2 separate regions of the Homo sapiens genome follow, and region 1 is linked to region 2. The links come from fine-mapping of genetic effects on gene expression. A gene starts in region 2. The other region holds a variant in brackets. All regions are shown on one strand. Distances are from middle to middle.

Evidence for each region. PIP is the estimated chance that this variant, and not a neighbour inherited with it, causes the effect.
Region 1: its variant is fine-mapped to the expression of RALA in whole blood (TOPMed, PIP above 0.99).

The regions. Positions count from the first base shown.
Region 1 is chr7:39,591,619-39,594,532 of GRCh38, reverse strand. It overlaps a transcript of YAE1 not described here. Among named protein-coding and RNA genes, the nearest start is that of YAE1, 27 kb to the right of the region's middle. The variant C/T (reference allele first, on the strand shown) is at 1,648.
Region 2 is chr7:39,621,948-39,624,861 of GRCh38, reverse strand. RALA (RAS like proto-oncogene A) reads right to left here and starts at 1,290. Exons shown (of 5, transcript NM_005402.4): 1 at 1,037-1,290. It overlaps LOC107986785 (a long non-coding RNA gene), which reads left to right and starts at 1,385. Exons shown (of 2, transcript XR_001745175.2): 1 at 1,385-2,429. RefSeq lists silencers at 87-136, 731-1,240 and an enhancer at 567-1,414.

The sequences.
Region 1 (2,914 bases), 30 kb after region 2:
GAACAAAGCAATAAAAAAAAAATGAAGGCATTGAGAAGGGACCAAAGTAGGCAGAAAATGGAAAGGAATCAAATTTAGAGGAAAAGAAAGGCATTGGGTGAGTTTTTCCATTTCTTATGACTCTTTACCTGAGGGTGGGCTCCAGCAAGGCTTGCACCGGGTAGCTAATACTCACAGACTCATAATCATACAGGTTATGTATTAAGAGTCAGAGTTTGGAGCAACCACAGCTGGAATGTGAGGGAGAAGATTCTAGAAAGGAGAAAGCCACAGATGAGGAGCCCCAGTTTGTGAATATAAAATCTACTTGGAAATCTGGCTGATTCCTGCACTATCCCTGTGCAGGGCAGAACCTGAGAAGCCCATACATGGCTAAAAGAATGGAACAAAGATTTCAGCTACTGCCCAACATAGAGGGGGTAGAGTTTGGAGTTTGAGTTCTGAAAAGTTATCTGTCTACTACAACAAAAATTAATACTCTTGAGAAGAACATAACAGAGTTCAGAGTTTCTCCAATTTATCATTCACTGACCATGTCCAGGATACAACCCCAAATTACTAGACATAAGAAGAAACAGGAAAATGTGATCAACCAACACTCTAAGGAAAAGACAATCACTAGAGACCAACCACAGAATGCTTCATATATTGTAATTAGCAAAGATTTTAAGGCAGTTATCGTAACTATACCTAAGGATGTAAAAGAAAACATAATTTAAATGAATGAACATATAGGAAATCTCAGCAGAGAAACAAACCGTAAAGAAATAACCAGGCTGGATGCGGTGGCTCATGCCTGTAATTTCCAGTATTTTGGGCGGCTGGGGTGGGCAGATTGCTTAAGCTCAGAAGTTTGAGACCAGACTGGGCAATGTGGCAAAACCCTGTCTCTTTAGATACAAAAAATTAGCTGGCCATGGTGGTGCGTGACTGTAGTCCCAGCTACTTGGGGGCTGAGGCAGGAGGATTTCTTGCACCCATAAAAGGCCAGGCACAGTGGCTCATGCCTGTAAACCCAGCACCTTGAGAGGCCAGGGCAGGCGGATCACTTGAGGCCAGGAGTTCAAGACCAGACTGCCCTACATGGTGAAACTCCATCTCTACTAAAAATACAAAAATTAGCTGGGCGTGGTGGCACTGGCCTACATGGTAAAACCCCATCTCTACTAAAAATACAACAATTAGCTGGGCATGGTGGCAGGCACCTGCAATTCCAGCTACTCGGAAGGCTGAGGCACATGAATAACTCGAACCCAGGACTTAGAGGTGGCAGTGAGCCAAGATTGTGCCACTGCACTGCAGCCTGGGTGACAAAGCGAGACTCTGTCTCAAAAAAAAAAAAAAAAAAAAAAAAAGAAATAACCAAATGGAAATTATAGAGCTAGATATTAAAGTATCTGATATTTAAAAATTCACTAGATAGGCTTAACTGTAGATTGGAGATAAAAGGAGAAAGAACTAGTACCCTTGAAAATAGATCAATAGAAATTATCCAATCTGAAAAAAACAGAGAAGAAAGCCTGGGAGAAAATGAGCAGAGTCCCAGTGACTTGTTAAACAGCATTAAGAGGTTTAAATATGTGTAACTGGAGTCCCAGTAGAGAGAGAATGACCAAAAATTTAAAGAAATAATGGCCAAAGTGTTTC[C/T]GAATTTGGTGAAATATATGATTTTGGCAAGCTCTAAGCAGGATAAGTGCAAAGAGAACTACATCTAGGCACGTTGTAATGAAACTACTGAAAACAAAAGTAAAAAAGTATTTAAAAGAGCCAGAAAAAGCAGCACATTGTAGACAGGATAACAATGACACATAAACAGCTGACTTCTTACTAGAAGCCACAAGGTAATGAATCATATGTTTAAAGCACTAAAAGGATAAAACTTAGAATTCTGTATCTATTTCATATCTAGTAAAATTACATATGGTTGCCTACATATGATGCTTCAACTTGTGATTTTTTGACTTTACTACGGCTTTATTGGGTGGTAGTATGTGCATTTTTGACTTGTGATATTTTTGATTTGTAATGGGTTTGCCATGGGTTAAATCCATCACAGATAAATTTATCATGGGTTTATAACGCCATGGTAAGTTGAGGAGCATCTGTATCTCACATTTTACATATAGCAAAAATATCCCTAAGGAAATGCCAATTAAAACAGTGAATTACTACTACAAATAGATGACACTAAATACTGATGAGGATATGAAGCCACAGGAACTTTCATTTATTGCTTGTAAGAATGCAAAATGGTAGAGCAACTCTGGAAGATAGTTTGGTGGTTTCTTTAAGGACTAAACATACTCTTACCATATGATCCAGCAATTGTACTTTTTGATATTTACCCAAAGGAGTTGAAAACTATGTTCATGCAAAAACATGCACAAAGATGTTTATTGCAGCTTTACTCATAATTGCTGAAAACTGGAAGAAACCAAGAAGTCCTTTAGTAGGTGAATGGATAAAATGACTGTGAAATATCAACTATGAAATATTCAGTGCTAAAAAGAAATGAGCTATCAAGCCATATAAAGATATGGAGAAAACTTAAATGCATATTGCCAAGTGAAAGAAGCTAATCTGAAAAGGCTACATAATGTATGATTCCAACTACAGTATGTGACATTCCGGAAAAGGCAAAAATACATAAGTGTAAAAAGATCAGTGGTTGCCAGGAATTAGGTAGGGAGAGAGGGATGAATAGGTAGAACACAGAGCATTTTTTAGGGCAGTGGAAATACTCTGTGTGATACTATAATGGTAGATACATGTCATTATACATTTGTCAAAACCTATAGAATGTACAACACCAAGTGAATGCTAATGTAAACTGTGGACTGTCGGAGATAATAACGTATCAATGTAAGTTTGGTAATTGTAACATATGTACCAATCCGGTGGTGGACGTTGATAA
Region 2 (2,914 bases):
TCTGTTATCCAATTTCTGGAATATGATTAAAGTTGCAATTTACTTTCTGGAAAAGAATTAACTTATGATACATGTTTTATAAAGGTTGTTCCCCCCCCACACCACACAATTTGTAAATTAGGTGCTTTTCAGCTTGACACGTAGGGCGTGGCACGGGACTTCTCACACTACCTCAGCCACACTTGGATGAGCTCTTACAAGTCTGGACATTCAGGTTTCCGAGCACAGGCCAGTTAACTCCCTAATTCTCCCTAAATCCTGAAACAACACTGCCACCCCTGTGTGCCGTCACCCCCGTCTACTTAAACACATATATCCAGGCTAAAGCATGCCAATCACATCTTCCACTTCTGGAAATCTTTCAGAAACGAACCACAGAGGAAACACCTCTCTCCCAAAATGTATTCTCTTCCTCATATTAGAAGCTAGATTACCTGAAAATGGGCTAAAGCTGTGCAAGCGCCCAAGGCCAGGTATTCAGTTCAGTGCGGAGAGTCTAATGACTTTAAGTCTGAAAAACCATTCCTTTAACTGGCAAAAAAAAAAAAAAACACAAACAAACAAAACAAACAAACAAAAAACCCTGGCGGAGATGCTTAAAAAGCAGCGGCTCTAGCACAGGCAAGGAGTGGAAAGAAAGGGAAGGAGGGGAGAGGGGTGGAGTGAGGCGCGGGGACTGCGGCGGCAGCGGGTTGCCCCAGGTCGCGGGCACCGCCCGGGCGGGAACTTGGGCGCCGTGGACGAAAGGTGCGGGGTGACCTTCGGACGAGGCCAACTGAGACCGGCTGCCGGGCGCAGGGGACCTCTCCGCAGCCGCTCACTCTCGGGGGCTCACTCGCCCCACAGCGGCGAACGCGGTGCCCCGGATTCCAGCCGGGCTCATCTCGCAGCTCGTCCCCGGGCAGAACGTGGGATGTGCAATCTCGGCAGCCCGAACCCGCGTCAGGGCCTCGGCCCGCCGCCGCCCGGACACACCCCCGCCGCCGCCCGGGTGGCCCCAGTCCCTCCCCGGGCGGCCCGAGCGGGCATCGCTCACCTGCACCGCGAGCCAGTCCGCCGCCCCGAGGGCTCCGGAAGCCGCGGCTGCGTGGCTCCGGCCGGAGGGTACTCGGTCCTTGTCGCCTGGAAGGCCCCGCGCCGGGAGCGGTCGAAGGAGGAGTCTGACGGGTGGCGGGGGAGCCTGGGCGGCTGGAGGAGGAGGAGGAGGAGGAGGAGAAGGAGGAGGAGGACTCCGACGCTTTGCTCTGGGGAGATCCACCCTCCTCCTGGCGGCTCTGCAGCAGCCGCCACAGATCACTTCCGGGGCGCTGGGGAGCGGGGCGGGGCAGCTGGGGAGCGACTTCCTGTCCGTGGGCTGAGAGGAGGGTGATCATGGGCCTGGGCCGCAGAACAGTGGCTCGGAGGGCGCAGGCTGCCCGGCCTCCGCCCCCTGCAAGCTGAGGGCTGTCCGCGCTGTCTTTCCGACGGCCCCACCCCCGGCTCTCTGAGCTCCGCGAGGTGAAGTCATCTCCCGGGGGCTCGGGAGTGGCCGCGGGCCTCGCGGAGGTTCCCGGATCTCGGCGTCGTTGCCGCGGTGTCCTTGTCTTTCTTTTGGGGACCAGGAGGGGGTTCTTGGGGGAAGGAGGGGAGAGCGGAGGCCGCCATCTTGCTTCTAGAGGGTCAGCTCATGTTCCCTGGGCGTCTCAGGGTTGAGGCCGCTCGTGTGGCGTGGCCGGGGGTATTCAGAGCGGAGCTGGCGACGTGGCTTGTCACGGGCCAAATCCCAGGAGGCGGGTCAGCCGCCTACCCTGGCTGGAGGGTCTCGTGGCTGCCCTGGGCCTCATCTAACTGCTGATCCCCTGGAGAATTCGCTTTCTCGGACGGTCTGCGAGTTCTTTCTGAGGGGTGTCGGACCCCCCTGCGACTCTGCAGGTGTCGGTGTGGCACTGAGATCATCTTGCGGCCCCATGGCACTGTGATTTGGTAGCTTGTGAGAAGTAGTTTCACTAAATCCGTAAATTTAAGTTAGCAGCTACAGATTCTTATGTCTTGACATTTATTCGCTTATCTCTCTTTGCTCCCCACAAATTGAGTACCAACTATATTCCTGGTATGAGCCATTCAAGGAATGTCCAGTCTAGTGGGCAGACATACATGAAAGCAAATCATTGCTATTGGAAGTATGGTTTATCAAGATGTACAGCGTGAAGAATGGATAGCTTTACTAACGTAGGTTAGAGTTTTAAAGATAAATAGGCATTTTCTACTACAAAAATAGGGGTGGGATGGCAAATCCGGATCCGAACAGAAAGGAGATGCAGCACGGGGACAAATAATTTGTTGAGAAGAATGAGTAATAATTACAGGTCTTGAAGTTCAAACTTAGGTTGCTGAAGAAGATGAGGCTGGAGAAGAAAACAGGAGCCAAATCACGAATCGTCTATGCCTTGGTGAGGCAATGAGTGGACAGATTACAATTTAAGCTATTCTTCTGTTGGTAGAGAACAGATAACTTGGGGGGGTGGAGGTGGGGGGGCAGAGAAGGATAAGCAGAGAGCCCACAAGGGGGCCATTGCAGAAGCCAGTAAGAGAAAACTTAAGGACCCTGTGTGAATGGTAGTGAGCATCCAAAGGAGATGGATTCCTAAAATATTCAAGAGGCCATATCAACTGGTAATTGGTTGCTAGGGGCAGCTGCCAGATAGGAGAATGGAAGAGGCAATGATGATGCCTTGTTTTGCTTTGAGGGAGGGGCAGGATAAGGGTGTATTTTACTAAATAAGATAAGGAAGAGTTAGGATGAGTCCTGGGAGGGGACATTTTTGCAGAAAAAAAATGAGTTCAGTTTTGGAGTTGATGAGTGAAGTAAGAGTGGTGCTGTCTAATGGTGGTTGCTATATGGGTCTAGAGCTCTAGGGAGGAGCTGGGCTGAAGT